Linked DNA regions of Homo sapiens: region 1 is linked to region 2. The links come from fine-mapping of genetic effects on gene expression. Tissue or cell type: thyroid. Region 2 holds a variant in brackets; the other region holds the start of a gene. All regions are shown on one strand. Distances are between the middles of the regions.

Region 1 (8,183 bases), 39 kb after region 2:
CGGTAAGGTTACTTCAGGTTTTCTGGCCAAATTATCTGGCTTTGTCAAAGATTGAAACCAACATGTAATCTTTATAATCAAGTGGGTTTAAGCATGGCCATATAATAAAATGTTTGCCCTGCGTGATGTCATTGAATATTTGACCAATTATCTCTGATCTCCAGTAACACATAAACCTGTGGTTCTGGAACTTTAGGGGGCCTTTAAGAATGAGGCAAAGAGTGCTAGCTTCGGCAGCACATATACTAAAATTGGAAAGAATGGGGTAAAGAAATGACTTCAGTAGATCCCCTAGAAAACTTTCCAGGACCCCTCAATACAGACATTATATTTGAGTGAAAACAAGATGGCTACAGACTGATTTGTGTCCCCCACAAACTCATATGTTGAATCCCTGACTCCTAACGTGACTGTATCTGGAGATTGAACCTTTAATAGAAGGTAATTAAGGTTAAAAGAGATCATAAAGGCGGAGCCCTAATTTGATAAGATTGGTGGCCTTACAAGAAGAGGGAGAGAAAGACAGCTCTCTTCCTATGCCATGTAAGTGTAGTGGTGTGCAAGCTAAGAAAAGGGCCCTCGCCAGAAACTGACCCTGCCAGACCTAGATCTGAAACTTGCAGCCTTTAGAATGGTAAGAAAATAAGCTGCTGTTAAGTCACCCAGTATGTGGTATTTGTTAAGATAGCCCGAACAGGCTAATACAGTAGTCCCCCTTTATCCATGATTTCAGTTACCTGCAGTCACCTATGGCCTGCAAATATTGAATGGAAACTTCCAGAAATAAACAATGCATCAATTTAAAATTGTGCCCCATTTTGAGTGGCATGATGAAATCTTTAGCCAACCTGCTCCTTCCGGCCCAGAATAGGAATCATTCTTTAGCCTAGCGTATTCACATTGTCTGCACTATCTGCTCGTTAGTCACTTGTTGGCTTGGTTATTAGAAAACATAAAACAATAAAAAACACGGTATATATGGGGTTTGATGGTAACATAGTATATACGGGGTTCGGTACTATCCTCAGGTTCAGACATCCACTGAAGGTCTTGGACATACTCCCCAAGGATAAGGATCAGCTACTATATGGATACCTGCTACTTAAAGCAATCTCACTTTATGTTTTATTTTATATTTTAATTTTTTGGTAGAGACCGGGTCTCAGGATGTTATCCAGGTTGGTCTTGAATTTCTGGCCTTAAGCAATCCTTCTGTATCCCAAAATGTTGGGATTACAGGTGTGAGCCACTACACCTGGCCCCAAGCAACCTCATTTTAATTAAACATTATTATTAATTTTAATACTAAATGTGATATATACATTTTTGTTAGATAAGAGCATAGTGATTTGCACAAAATGCAGAGTAAACAGACATTTATTTTCTCTAAAAGCTAATAAGACAAGCGTAGCCTGTGTCCTCTGCAGGCCAACTCACTCATAGACCAACTTTGGAAAGCCAGGTTAAAAAGGGTCAAGGAGAAATGACTACTATTTAAAAATATTCTTACTCAAATATTTTATTCTTAACTATATCAAAAATATTCTCTTCAGTAAATGGAATTTGCATTCCCACTTGAACTGAAAATGCTAAGTTGTTAATACCTTCTCCAGGGATTTACTTCTTGGGATGACACCTTCACTGGGTTCGTCATAGTTTAAGCATAATAAAATCTCATTATATGCTCCAAAGCATGAACGATCCGGGAAGTTCCTCAGTCAGTGTAGAACTTAGCCTTACGGCTTTGAGAATAACATTTTAAAAGGCATTACATAAAGAAAGAATGGATCCCAGCCTGGGGAACAAAATTGCATGCTTTGTTTCTTTAAAAACATCCAAAACAGCCGGACGTGGTGGTTCACGCCTGTAATCCCAGCACTTTGGGAGGCCTAGGCGGGCTGATCACTTGAGGTCAGGAGTTTGAAACCAGCCTGGCCAACATGGCGAAACCCCATCTCTACTAAAATACAAAAAATTAGCTGGGCGTGGTGGCCCATGCCTGTAATCCTAGCTACTTGGGAGGCTGAGGCAGGAAAATCGCTTGAACCCGGGAGGTGGAGGTTGCAGTAAGCTGAGATCGCACCACTGCACTCCATCCTGGGCGACAGAATGAGACTCTGTCTCAAAAAATAAAAAATAAAAAAAAATCCAAAACATCTTCAGATTTTAATGCCTGATTTTAAAGAAAGGGGTGGCAGGGAAGGAAGAAACCCAAATAGGGTAGTTGCTTTAATCACTGTTACCACTAATTTTCTGAGAGCAGCAAAGCGCGTCTAAGAACTCCAATAAATCTATACTAAATTTTATATGTCCCATACATATTTTCTGGGAAAAAGGGCCCTTGAGCTTTGAACACAATCTCAAAGGAAACAGTGACTAAAAAAGGTTAAGAACCTCTTGTTGAAGGGTTTGCTTTATTGAACGGAAGAAACAGTTCTCCCTCTCCCCTCCACGCTAGGTATAACCAGCCTTCCGGATGTGCCGCCTTTGGTATCACCCAAGATCTCGGGATGGGTACCCATCCCTGCCTCCACTGCCTGGTTTGCTGGTTACCCTGCTCTTTGGTTCTGTTTCTCCATGTGTGTTTCTGCAAGCTGCCTCAATGTCCCCCTTCCTCGGCAGTTGTCCTACTCTGTGTCCCTGAAATAAGAGCGGTTCCTCAGCGGCTGCCTCATTTGGGTGAGACCCACGTGACACTCATCACATTTGTCAACCTCCCCTTTTTCCTCTCTACTCTTTTGGGGCCACTGGCCTTTGTCCCGTGCCGGAGAGGTAGCCCCCCCATCCCCCGACTCTTTACCCTCTTCCTGGTTGGGTTTGGCAGATACTTTCACGCATGTCCCGTCATGTTCCTGTCCTACCATTCCCAGGTAGTGTGAAATTCTTTTCCTGGCCCACTCGAAAGATGTGAGAAAGAAATGGTGCCTGAAGTGCGCTCTCTGATCCCCCGAAAAGAATATTACACATAACTACTAAGCGCTTTGTGTTTGGGTCCATGATTCCGACATATGACGTGGAGAAGCATAGTGCCCTGCACCTGCCTTGACCATGGCCTCCTGAGAGTCCCCAGGGCCACCAAGCCCCCCATTCCAAGTGCTCTCCTTGAATGTGACTCGGCTCTTTCCACAATCCGCCCAGCCTGGGTTAGGGAATGGGAGCTCTCTACTATATTCTTCTCCACAATATTCTAAAACCTCCTCTCTGTCCTTCTAGAGAGAGCGCAAATGGGTAAGTTTTTTCCCCCTAAAACTTGCTTAAAATCAGCGCGTCGGGCCCCGGGGCGCCCGGGATGTGAGGGCGGGGAGGTGGTTGTCGGGGCGGTCCGCGCCCCCACGGCGAGGTGCACGGAGTTAGCTCGGCCCAGCAAGCGGCGGAGGGAGGCCAGCGAGCGGGGTCTGCGAGCGGAGGCCCGGGCGGCGGCGTCGTCCCCGGGGGCAGGCAGGCCGGCCGGGCCCGGGCCAGGGCGCTGCGCCGCGGCCTCCGCGCCTCCTCGGGGCGCCGCGCGGCCAGGCCGGCGGCGGCCCCCGGGGATGGCGGCGGCCGGGCTCCGCCAGCAGGTGGCCCTGGGGTCCCAGCGGCACCGCCCCCTCCGCCGGCGCCCCTCCTCCCGCGGGGGCGGTCAGCGCCCCGGCCGGCTCTGCACCCGCCGCCGCCCTCCCCGCAGCCCGCCCGCCGCGTCTTCGGGGCCGCCGCCGCCGCCGCCGCGACCGCAGGCTGAGCCCAGGCGGGCCGGCCGCCCCGAGCCGCCCCCCGCCTCCGCCGCCGCCGCCGCGCCCCGGCCCGGCCCGCTCCCAACGGAAAGTTGGGCTGCGGCGGGCGGCGTCTGGAACCCGCGGGCCGGCATGAGCGGGGGCCGCGGGGGCGCCTAGGGCACCGGGAGGCGGCGCCGCGCGGGGGCAACTTCGCCCGGGAGCCCACGCCGCCGGGCCCCGCGCCTGCAGCCCCGAGCCGGCTCGCGGTGGTTCCTCCCGTCCCGCGGCCTCCCCTCGCCGACTCCAGGCGCGGACCTTGGTCCCGGCGGCTCCGCCGCGGTGACACGAGCCCGCGCCGCCGCTGCCGCTGCCGCCGCTGCCGCTGCCGCCGCTGCCGCCGCCTCCTCAGCCCCCGCCGCCGCCTTCCCCGCACCATGGAGTTCTCCGAGAGGAAAAGAAGCAGGAAATCCCAGAGCTTCAAACTGGTGAGCCGAGGTAAGCGGCCGCCGGGGCGGCGGGGGCAGGCAGCGGGCGCCGCGCCCTCGGCCGCCCGCGGGGGTCCACGCTGGGGGGCGCGCCCTCCCGGAGCCCCCGGTCCTTCCCGGTCCCCCGGTGCCTCCGCCGGGCTGGCAGGCAGGGCCGCGGCCGCACACGCCGGGCGGCGGGGAAAGTTGTGCGGGGGGAGCAGGGATGTTATTTAACGTAAACAAGTCGGAGGGCAGCTCAGGAAATTAGCAAACAATGACACCGGGGGGCCCGAGCCCTCCTCGGGGCGCCTCCGGGGCAGGGCTGGGGCGGCCGCGGACCTGCCTGGCCATCAGGCCGAGCGTGGACCCTCGGACCTGAGATTTGCTGTTTTTGTTTTCTGGGGTCTTCCCCCTTCCCCCCGCCAAGAGAAGGAGGAAAAAGGATGACCGTTGTTGTTCTTTTTAAGAAGGAGAAAGAAGCTCACGCCGTGTCCAAGCCCAAGGCGGAATTGTTGACATCCAACATCTCTAGCTAGCTGATTTGGGTTGGAAAGGTGTTTTAGACTAGATCATATAGCAGTCAGATAAGCATCCTTTAAAAAAAAGAAAAAAGAAAAGAAAGAAAAGAAATCCATCTAGTTTCTGACGAATTAACAGGTGTACACCACACTCTAGGGTTTGTATTTTGTCAGGGAGGGGAAAGTGGAATACAGTCTTGTCTGTGTTCAGTTACTTGTTAAGAGTCTTTATCTTCCTGATTTGACTTTTTTTTTTAAAAAAATGATAACTCAAGAGCCATCGTGAAAATATATCTCAAAATGCATTGTCATCTTTAATTAGGGGCAGGTGACTTTTTTCATTGTAATGTCACAAGTCCTCATATTGAGTTTAGACCCGCTCTGTTTAAATGTCGTCTTTTAATCAAGTTGAGGTCAAAGCCAAACCCCAACCTGTCCACTTTTCCTCTGTCGTTTTCTCTAGCATTGGCATCAGGGTAGAAACTCCAACAACCTGCAGAAGTCACGTGTAAACTGATGAAAATTAGTGAAAAAATCGTGGACAATTGCAAGTAATCGAATTTTTCAAACTGAGCTAAGCTAGCTAAGATGTGGATTTGGTTCATCTGAAAATGCTTTGATTATAGGCATTTTGAAGATCCATTCTTATCTGCCTCCCCTAATTTAGTTTGGATACTGTTTAATGAAAGAGGCCTGAAATAGTTTCACGCATTCAAAATACTTGGCTCTTCCCACTTTCTGAGTAAATTTTTTTTTCCACATCCGTGTTGATTACTCAGTTACTTGGACTTTTAAAAGTCTCTGTCTGGGTGATTGCCCTGTTGGTGCTATCTGATTCATTCAGGAATGTAAGCTGCTTTCTTATTGATGACCTCAGAGAACTTAACTGCTTTATCTTAAAAGTGAGAGTAGTTTTGTTGACTTTGTCCTGTGAGGTCTAAGGCCAGAGAAAGGGGACTAGGTGTTAAGGAGGAACCTCTATTTTCATGCCTTAGTGACCCTGCTTTTCAAAAATAGAAGCAAAAATGCAGTAGCCTCCATAGAGAAGCTTGTAAAATACTGTATTTGAAACTTTGACTGACGTAGCAAGTTTTTCCTTTTTCCTTTTTTCTTTTTCTTTTAATTATAGGTCTGATTCTTCTCTTTCTCTGCAGGTGCAGTTTTAGAAAATAAACTTGCATATTAAATAAAGTGCAGTAGCTGAATGCGAAAGAGTCACTTGTGTGAAAGATGAAAATCTTGCTTTCTTATCCAAATCATACTACATTTGAAATAACAAATCAGTATTTTTCATGTGTGCTTGCCTTTAAGCTGCTTAAAGGCTGAGATTTTCTGGGTAAACTGAGAAAACTAGAGTGCTGGCTAAACTTTAAAGCATACTGTTGATATGCTGGTGAAAATGGGTTGTGAAGAGAAATTTGGAAACCTCCCCTGCTCTATGATTGGGCAAACATACTTGCCACCTCAAAGAAAAAAAGCCTAAAAATTGGCATCTGTGGGTACAATTTACCGTGAACATGGTGTGATCAAGCAAAGCTGTCTTCTAAAGCCAAAGTAATCTTTCAAGTTTGCGTACTCCAGAATAAGCAAAGTTTTAGGAATTATTATTGACTACAAATTCTGTGATTATTTCAGTTCTCAAAAAGTTTATTTATAAATTATAGAGTATACAAACTAAATAGAATGAGATTCTAGACTTGACTGCTTATTCCTATCTTGAGGTCCTTAGGATTCTAATTTTTGGTTGTTTTCTCATGCCAGATTATCACCACGAGGTGTATAAGATCCCAGAATTCAGCAACGATGTTAATGGGGAGGCCAAAGAGACACAGCCCATTTTTTTAGGTAGGTTCCTATGTCAATTAATACCTCAGCAAAACATCGTGACCATTTGCAATTAGGGGGAAAAAAGGAAATTGTTCAGGAACGGGAAATGTCTGCCATTGCTTAATGTATGACATTCTTTTCAAGACCTTTTATTTTACAGATTGCCAATATATCCCTTATTAACATTGCTAAAAGTTGTAATTTCAGACATAAATGTTTATTAGTGTCTACACACAGTGCTAATTATCACTCACTCACAGAGCCAGATGCTGACTGTGCAGTTTTGTGGCTCTGCGCTCACCCCATTTACATTGCATATTCGTTGGCATGCTTCACTGGCAATAGTTTGTGTAATTGGGGTATTACATCTTTGACATCTGGATAACAGAAATTCAATTTCCAGGAAGCTGCTATTTGTTTGGTTTTGCTTCTGCCTTGGGTGGGATAGAGGATTAATGTGCTGTCTTATAATGTCCCTTCACCTCTGTGGCCCAGTTGCTAATCCTGCCATGACAAAATTAAATTAAATCTACAGTCAAAAAGCATAAGGAAAATAAAAGTGTGACTGTCTGCCTAACCAGCTCTTGATAGTGCTAGTTATCATCAAGCAGCTCCTCATTTTCCTGACTTTGTGCTCCTTTCACACCAGCATTTTGGGACAGGGGGAACAGCATGCTTTCCTCTTACCATCCTTGTTCCCAGCTCACGTCAGGGATGAGCAGAGCTAAAACAGCATTTCTGAGACTTTCCAGCAAGTGTAGCTGCATGATGGGTGGGTAGGTAGCCACAAACATTGCCACCTTTTCCATGTGCAGTGTTGGTGCAAATACTGTACAGGAAAGACTTTGGATGTGCAGTTTTTTATTTGCACACAATCAGCCAAAAATGAAACCACGTAAGATTTTGCCTCTAAGAGTGAAGTACCCATAAGGTCAGGGTGGAGAGTAGATGGTGGCGTTGGGCCTCAACCTTGTCCATCTTGGACCTCTGCAATCCCAGGTAGCAGGGTGAGGGCACAGCACTGCACAGCAAGGAAGCAGAACATGAGAGAGGTCAGAGCGAGAACGATTACAAGCAAAGCCACAATTACCCCATCAAGGGGGACTTCAGGTAGCAGGACTGCTGCTCAGACCCGGTGTGGGTCAGCCTTCAAACGAAGCTCTCGCCAGGATCTCTCTGGTTTTGCTTTGAGGGATAGAAAGGGTGGGTCGGGATGCATTGGGAAGAAGTCAAATATTAATATATACTTTAAGAGGAAAAATAGGAGGGAAATGTCAGCATTTCTTACATGAGCGATCATTGATAGCACATAGATCTTTCTGCTGAGGGAAAGAATATCACTGGGGCCAGCACTGCTCCCAGTACCTGTTTACTGTTAAGAGAGCTAGGAGCCAAAAGGTTAATAATCAAGTGAAATGCTGTGGCCCAGAAAGAGAATATTCTTGGATTCTAGTCTTTCCAGTCCCCTAAACTTGGTCAGTTGGAATTCTTTTTTTTTTTTTTTTTTTTTTGAGACGGAGGTTCACTCTTTTTATCCAGGCTGGAGTGCAATGGCATGATCTCGGCTCACTGCAACCCCTGCCTCCCAGGTTCAGGCGATTCTCCTGCCTCAGCCTCCTGAGTAGCTGGGATTACAAGCACCTGCCACCACGCTTGGCTAATTTTTTGTATTTTTAGTA
Region 2 (8,183 bases):
AATTCTCAATAAATTTCAAATAATTAAAAATATACGGTGTATGTTCTTTGACAACAATGAATTAAACTAGAAATAGCAGAAAAATATCTAGAAAACTCCAGTATTTGGAAATTAAACAGTACGGTTACAAATAATCCATAGGATCAAAAAAGTAATCACAAGGGAAATTAGCAAGTTTCATTTTTTTAGACAGGGTCTTGCTGTCACCCAGGCTGGAGTGCAGTGGCATGATCATGGCTTGCTGCAGCCTCCACCTCCTGAGCTCAAGTGATCCTCACACCTTAGTCCCCAAAATAGCTTGTGCCATGGTCATGTGCCACCACACTCGGCTCATTTTGTTTTTATTTTTTGTAGAGATAGGGTTTCGTCACATTGCCCAGGCTGGAAATTAGTAAGTATTTTGAACTAAGCTAAGCACAGTAGTACACACTTGTCCCAGCTACTCGGGAGACAGAGGTGGGAGAACCACTTGAACCTGCGAGGCGGAGGTTTCAGTGAGCTGAGAGTGCACCACTGTACTCCAGCCTGGGCAACAGAGAGAGATTCTGTCTCAAACAAACAAACAAGCAAACAAACAAAACCCTGTGGGGTGGAAATAGAAATCTCCAAGTCCTGAGAGTTTCACTGGAGACTTATCATATATTTAAAGTAGTAACACCAATTTTGCAGTTCTTCCAGAAAATATAAGAGGGAGTACTTCCCAACTAATTTTTATGAGGCCAGTTTCCCAGAAACCAAAACCTAACAAACACATTACAGAAAAATAAAACTATAGACCAATATCACTTATGAACTTAGACACAAAATTCCTCAACCGAATATTAGCAACTTGAATCCAACAATGTATAAAAATCATTATACACCATGAAAAGGTAGGATTTTTTTCTTTCCATAGCTTTTGGAGTACAAGTGGTTTTGGTTACACAGATGAATTGTAGAGTGGTGAAGTCTAAGATTTTAGTGTGCCTGTCACCCAAGTCCTGTACATTGTACTGAATATGCAGTTTTTTATCCCCCACCGCCCTCCCACCCTCCTTCCTTCTGAATCTCTAAAGTCTATTATACCAGTGTGCATGACTTTGCATACCCATAGCTTAGCTCCCACTTACAAGTGAGAATATACTGTGTTTGATTTTCCATTCCTGAGTTACTTCTCTTGGAACAATGGCCTTCAGCTTCATCCAGGTTGCTGAAAAGACATTATTTCACTTTTTTACAGCTGAGTAGATTCTATGGTGTATATATACCACATTTTCTTTACCCACTCATCGGTTGATTGGCACTTTGGTTGATTCCATATCTTTGCAATTGTGAATTGTGCTGTGATAAATATATATATGCAGGTGTCTTCTTGATAGAATGACTTCTTTTCCTTTGGGTAGATACCCAGTAGCCAGATTGCTGGATCAAATGGTAGATCTACTTTTGTTCCTTAAGAAGTCTCCATACCACTTTCCATAGAGGTTGTACTAACTTACATTCCCACCTTCCTTTTTTAGCATGTCTGTGCCAACATCTATTGTTTCCTGACTTTGGTTTTTTTTTTTTTTTTTTTTTTTTTGAGTCAGAGTGTCGCTCTTGTTGCCCAGGCCGGAGTGCAGTGGTGCAATCTCAGCTCACTGCAACCTCCGCCTCCTGGGTTCAAGTGATTCTCTTGCCTCAACCTCCCGAGTAGCTGGGATTATAGGCGCCCGCCACCACATCCGGCTAATTTCTTGTATTTTTAGTAGAGATGGGGTTTCGCCATGTTGGGCAGGCTGGTCTCGAACTCCTGACATCAGGTGATCTGCCCACCTCAGCCTCCCAAAGTGCTGGGATTACAGGCTTGAGCCACTGCACCTGGCCTGTTTTCTGACTTTTTAATAATGGTGGTCTGGCTGGGGTAAGGTGGTATCTCTTTGTGATTTTAATTTGCATTTCCCTAATGATTAGTAATGTTGAGCATTTCTTCATATATTTGCTGGCCATTTGTATATCTTCTTTTGAGAAATGTCTATTCATGTCATTTGCCTACTTTTTGATGGGATTATTTATTTTTCTGGCTGGTTTGTTTGAGTTCCTTGTAGATTCTGGATATTAGCCCTTTGTTGGATGCATCGTTTGCAAATATTTTCTCCCATTCTGTGGGTTGTCTGTTTACTCTGATGATTATTTCTTTTGGCATGCAAAAGCTTCTTCAATACAGTCCTATTTATTTATTTATTTATTGCATTTGCTTTTGGGGCCTTAGTCACAAATTATTTTCCTAGGCCAATGTCCAGAAGGGGTTTTCCTAGGTTTTCTTCTAGAATTTTTATAGTTTCAGGTCTTAAAGTCTTTGATCCATCTCGAGTTGATTTTTTTATATGGTGAGAGACAGAGACCCGGTTTTATTCTTCTACATATGGCTATCCAGTTTTCCCAGCACCTTTTATTGAATAGGTTGTCCTTTCCCCAATTTATGTTTTTGTATGCTTTGTTAAAGACCAGTTGGTTGTAAGTATTTGGCTTTACTTCTGATTTCTCCACTCTGTTCCATTGGTCTATGTATCTACTTTCATACCAGTACCATGCCATTTTGTTTAATATAGCCTTGTAGTATAATTTGAAATCAGGTAATGTGATGCTTTCAGATTTGTTCTTTTTGCTTAGAATTGCTTTGGTTATTCAAGGACATAAAGTAGAACTTGTTCCAGATATGCAAGAGTGGCTCAACAAACAAAAATTGATTAATTAAAAATTTATCAATGTAATCCACTGTATCAACTGGCTAACAAAAAAAAATCATGTGACCATCTTAGTTGACACACACACAAAAAGCATTTGACAAAATCCAACACTCATTCATGATAAAAACTTGCAGCAAAGTAGGAAAGAGCATTTACCAAAAACCTACAGTCACCATCATATGTAATGGTGAAAGACTGAATGTTTCCTTGTTGGGTTGGAGAAACAACCCAAATATACATGTCAACTAATGAATGGATAAATGCACCATAGTATCATTCATTCAAAGGAACTGTATTCTGAAATAAAGAAGGAATGAACAGCTGATATATGCAACAACCTGGAAAGTCCCAAAACAGTATGTTAAGTGAAGTATTCCAGACACAGAATACTATATACTACATGATTCCGTTTATATGAAATTTCAGGAGCATTAAAAATATAGTGATAGAAAGATTAGTGACTGCCAGGAGCTGGGGCTTGGGCTGGGAATTGACTGCAGAGGGTCACGAAGGAGCATTTTTTGGAGGAGGAGGGAAATGGAAATATTCTATATCATAGTGGTTAAAAAGACACATGCACCCCCTCCCTAAACATCTTATCCTCTGATATATTCCATACTCTTCCTATTGTATCCACTCTTTAGCATCCTCTGCCACTGCATCCTTCTGTGTTAGCCATCACATCCAAAATATACAATCTTCACAGGTTTGCATCAAAAAGAGCACCACTGGCCGGGCGCAGTGGCTCAAGCCTGTAATCCCAGCACTTTGGGAGGCCGAGGTGGGTGGATCACCTGAGGTCAGGAGTTCGAGACCAGCCTGACTAGTATGGTGAAACCCCGTCTCTACTAAAAATGCAAAAATTAGCTGGGCATGGTGGTGTGCGCCTGTATTCCCAGCTACTCAGGAGGCTGAGACAGGAGAATTGCTTGAACCCAGGAG[G/A]CAGAGGTTGCAGTGAGCTGAGATCGTCCCACTGCACTCCAGCCTGGGTGACAGAGACTCCATCTCAAAAAAAAAAAGCACTGTTTATAACTACTTATAACTACAGCTGCTACAATTGACAGCACGTTCCAAAAGGAGGGACAGAACATTGAGAACATTGCAAGTGGCAGTAGTAATGGCCATGGGAAAAGCTGGCTATGAATGTCCCCCACGTGTTAGAAATATCTATCAAGACACCGTTAAAGACCACATTTCACCCAGTTTAACGTGACTTTTTTTTTCAGTTTTAACTTCTCTGAAAAGGGGACATATTTTTTCAGTTGATGACATCACGCAGTTATAATTGAGAATGTTTATTTTTCCTTCTTAGTGGTGAATTTTTTTAATGGTGCACTTTTTTTTAAATTATACTTTAATTTCTGGGGTACATATGCAGAATGTGCAGGTTTGTTATACAGGTATACACGTGCCATGGTGGTTTGCTGCTCCCATCAACCTGTCATCCACATTAGGTATTTCTCCTAATGCTATCCCTCCCCCAGCCCCCCACCCTCCGACAGGCCCCAGTGTGTGACGTTCCCCTCCTTGTATCTATGTGTTCTCAATGCTCAACTCCCACTTATGAGTGAGAACATGCAGTGTTTGGTTTTCTGTCCCTGTGTTAGTTTGCTGAGAATAATGGTTTCCAACTTCATCTATGTCCCTGCAAAGGACATGAACTCATCATTTTTTACAGCTGCATAGTATTCCATGGTATACATGTGCCACATTTTCTTTATCCAGTCTATCACTGATGGGCATTTGGGTTGGTTCCAAGTCTTTGCTATTGTGAACAGGGTGCACTTTTTTTATACCAGAGCAATTACATCAGAATCTCTGAATGAATGGCTGTCATAGAGTCAATAAAATATAGGATGGCTGGCCAGAAGACGCAGAGAATTTTGCTTTGGCTTTCAAGGGTAAGAAAGCAGAGGTGAGAGTCAAGGCAGAACTGGAAGCCTGGAACCCAAGTCCTGGATCTCCATGTTATGTTTGAAATTAATAGCCCCTTTCCCACCTATTCTTATCTCCAGTTAGGGCTGAAGAGGTGTGTTGCCAAGTGGTGCCAACAGCCTTTGGAATAAGAAGTCACAAATAGAGCTGAAAGAGATGGTGGAAGGGTAAGGGAACAAGAGCAGGTCCACTCAGCCACAAGTGGCAGCACAAACAGAAGCAACCAATTGATGGGCTTGGGCTTGGCTGGCTTAGGAAGAGTATGGCTGGCTAGTTGCATTATGAAATTGAGTAACTTGCCACAGGGCTCTTATGAAATCAGGAACTTGCTGCAGTGTTATAAATGGGACAGGGCCTCAGTACTATAATTACTTAATCTTTCTGTACTTCAGTTTCTTCATCTGCAGAATGGGAAATAACAGCAGTACCTGTGTAAGAGAATTAGCGTGTTGATTAAAATGAGATGCATGTAGTGGGCTAAAACAGTGCCTGGCATATGGTAAATACTCAATAATTTTAGATATCATTATATTCATTTCTGTGTTTTTACAGTTCATCCATCCGTTCTTTCATTATTTCAACAAACATTTATTTAGCATTTACGATGCTAGGAGCTGAATAGTTCATCACATTTCGTTAATGTTTATGCCTTTTTAATCTCCTTAGAAACGACCAGTGCCAAATGCCAATTCCTTATAATTCTTACTTACCATCCTCAATATATTTTATTTCTGTTTCATCCTCCTACCACTGAAAAGATTAGTTAAAATAGGGCCAGAGTTTCTACTCTTTACAATAAAAAAAAGCTACTGATTCATCCTAGAAAATACCAGATTTTAGCATGCCAACAATGATCTAGAAAAACACACAAGACTGAAAAAAAGAGAAGTAGAAAATGGCTTTGTCACTTAAAGAGGTATAATATTAGGCCAGTCATTTGCAAAATAAAGATCATACTTTACTTAACCAACAGAGATTTTGAGGCAAAAAAAAAAAATGAGATAAAGTGTTTCTAAATGTATAAATTTAATATTATAAATAGACCCTAAATCAGGGTAAGTTTCTGCTATCAAACATAACATGATTTTCTTTTGATTGCTGAAGATGTTTAGTAATTTAATATATTTACATGGTAACTTTCTACTAAAGAACCCCCAAGGCTGGGGGCAGTGGCTCATGCCTATAGTGCCAGCACTTTGGAAGGCCAAGGCGGGTGGATCACAAGGTCTGGAGTTCAAGACCAGCCTGGCCAATGTGGTGAAACCCCGTCTCTACTAAAAATACAAAAATTAGCCAGGCATGGTGGCAGGCACCTGTAATCCCAGCCACTCGGAAGGCTGAGGCAGGAGAATTGCTTGAACCTGGGAGGCAGAGGTTGCAGTGAACCAAGATTGCGCCATTGCGCGACAGAGCAAGACTCCATCTCAGAAAAAAAAAAAAAAGAAAGAAAGAAAAAGAAAAGAACCCCCCAAATTTCAGTCTCAAAACTCTTCAGAGATAAGGGACAGAATGTTGAATGCCATGACGTCCTTTTTGTGTGATCCCACCATGATTTATTTGAACTTCTCTTATTATGTTTAATAGTCTACTTTATTTTATATATTTTTGTATTTATTTAAGCCATCTTTTGAATCCCATCTTTCTTGAAGGCAAGAGCTGTTACAGCCCCTCTAATGGCAGTCATTGGCTGATTGTCTCAGGTGCCCACCTTATAATCCTGCCTTGAAATGGCCCCGTAGCCCACCTTTCCACCTTCACCTCCACTGCACGCCTCCCCTCCAAACATTACACCCATTTTCTTTTTTTATTTTCAACTGTAACCACCACACACTTTATTTTTCTTCGTCATAGATCTCCATTTTCCATTCATCCCCATTCTTTCTAGTGTTTTATCCCCTGTATTTGTCTGTTCTTGCATCACTATAAAGAAATACCTGAGACTGGGTAATTTATGAGTAAAACAGGTTTAATTGGCTCATGGTTCTGCAGGCTGTACAGGAAGCATGATGCTGGCATCTGCTCGGCTTCTGGGGAGGCCTTGGGAAGCTTCCAATCAGGGTGGAAGGCAAAGGGGGAGCAGATGCGTCTTAAATGGCCGGAGCAGGAGCAGGGGATGGGGGTGGGTACCACACACTTTTAAACAACTAGATCTCACAAGAACTCGCTGACTATCATGAGGACAGTATCGAGGGGGATGGTGCTAAGGCATTCATGGGAAATCTGCCCCTATGGTACAGTCACCTCCTACCAGGCCCCACCTCCAACCCTGGGGATTACAATTCAACATGAGATTTGGTGGGGATGCAGATCCAAACTGACAGAGCAGGAGCACTGTCTTCTTGGAAAAACACTGCCATTTTAAGTTCTAGCTCCCTTTCTACCCTCATGCGTTTCAAGGAAATCACTTCTCTTCTAACAAGAAAAAGCCAGAAAGGGCAGATAGCAAAACACAGATAAGACAGCTCGGGCCCAGAAGGAGTGGGGGAAAGTCTCTTGGGTAACCACCAAACTTCACACTCATACAATGGGCCCCAGTAAAACAGTGGGCCCTAATAAGCACATTCCTTTTCCTTTAGGTGCACTAAGCTAGGAAAGCTAAAAGCAGACTCAGTGGGTATGCCTGTACCTGCAGGAAGATGTATGGGAACAGACACAAAACTCTCTCTCCCAGATAAGCAAGACAAAGAGACACAGAAACATTCCCAGCCTGTGATGCGCTCTCTTGACCTGACCTCTTAAAAACTCTTAGTCTGTAAGAGAGAGTGCTCCTGACCTAATTCGGCCAGAAGCCCCTCTCAGGTTTATTCTTTAACATAAACCTGTCTTTGACTGTTGAGCCACTTTTTGTGCTTCTTTCTTCCTTCTTCAACTCTTACACAGACCATATCATCCACCAACAGTTACCTGAACGACTTTACGGTTCTTCCTCTCCCTCCATGATCCTTCCCTGATGTTTCCACTTTCCCACTTTCTACCACCTCTTGGCTTCATTCCCTTGTCCTATCACTTGCCCAGCTTTCTTCTGAATTCCCATAGTGGGTATCAGCCCTGTTGAAAGATCTCTATTGCCTGTGGGAGGAAGCTGGGTGCTGAGGAGCAGTTTCTTGTCAGCTTTGGCAAAGTGGTCAGGTGAGAACTGGACCAGGTGAGGAGGAAGACCCACACGTGTCTTCCTCCTCTGGAAGAAGGAGGGTTAGCAGACAAGGAGGGTTAGCCACAGGCAGGCAATAGAGAATTTGGGCCATTGTCAAAATGCCAAACAGGCTGTGTGCAGTGACTCATGCCTGTGATCTCAATACTTTGGGAGACTGAAGCAAGAGGACTGCATGCGATCAGGAGTTCAAGACCAGCCTGGGCAACAGAGCGAGACTGCTTCTTTACAAAATACTTAAAAGTTAGCCAGGTGTAGTGATGCATGTCTGCAATCCCAGCTACTTGGAAGGCTGAGAGGGAGGATCACTTGAGCCCAGGGGGTCAAGGCTGCAGTGAACCGTGATTGCATCACCATGCTCTAGTCTAAGTGGCAAAGTGAGTCCTTGT

Alleles and levels. Alleles are on the strand shown, and positions count from the first base shown. SD is a standard deviation of normalised expression in the study named.
For the expression in thyroid of the gene that starts at base 3,646 in region 1, G is the low allele of the variant in region 2 and A is the other (moderate effect, 0.70 SD a copy in GTEx).

What was found. PIP is the estimated chance that this variant, and not a neighbour inherited with it, causes the effect.
Region 1: BEND7 starts here. The variant in region 2 is fine-mapped to the expression of BEND7 in thyroid (GTEx, PIP above 0.99).

The regions. Positions count from the first base shown.
Region 1 is chr10:13,524,477-13,532,659 of GRCh38, reverse strand. It overlaps BEND7 (BEN domain containing 7), which reads left to right and starts at 3,646. Exons shown (of 9, transcript NM_001369863.1): 1 at 3,646-4,187; 2 at 6,439-6,522. The coding sequence starts at 4,127. It overlaps BEND7-DT (BEND7 divergent transcript), which reads right to left and starts at 4,056. Exons shown (of 2, transcript XR_930674.3): 1 at 4,008-4,056; 2 at 2,396-2,640.
Region 2 is chr10:13,563,949-13,572,131 of GRCh38, reverse strand. No RefSeq gene overlaps it. Among named protein-coding and RNA genes, the nearest start is that of PRPF18, 19 kb to the left of the region's middle. The variant G/A (reference allele first, on the strand shown) is at 3,651.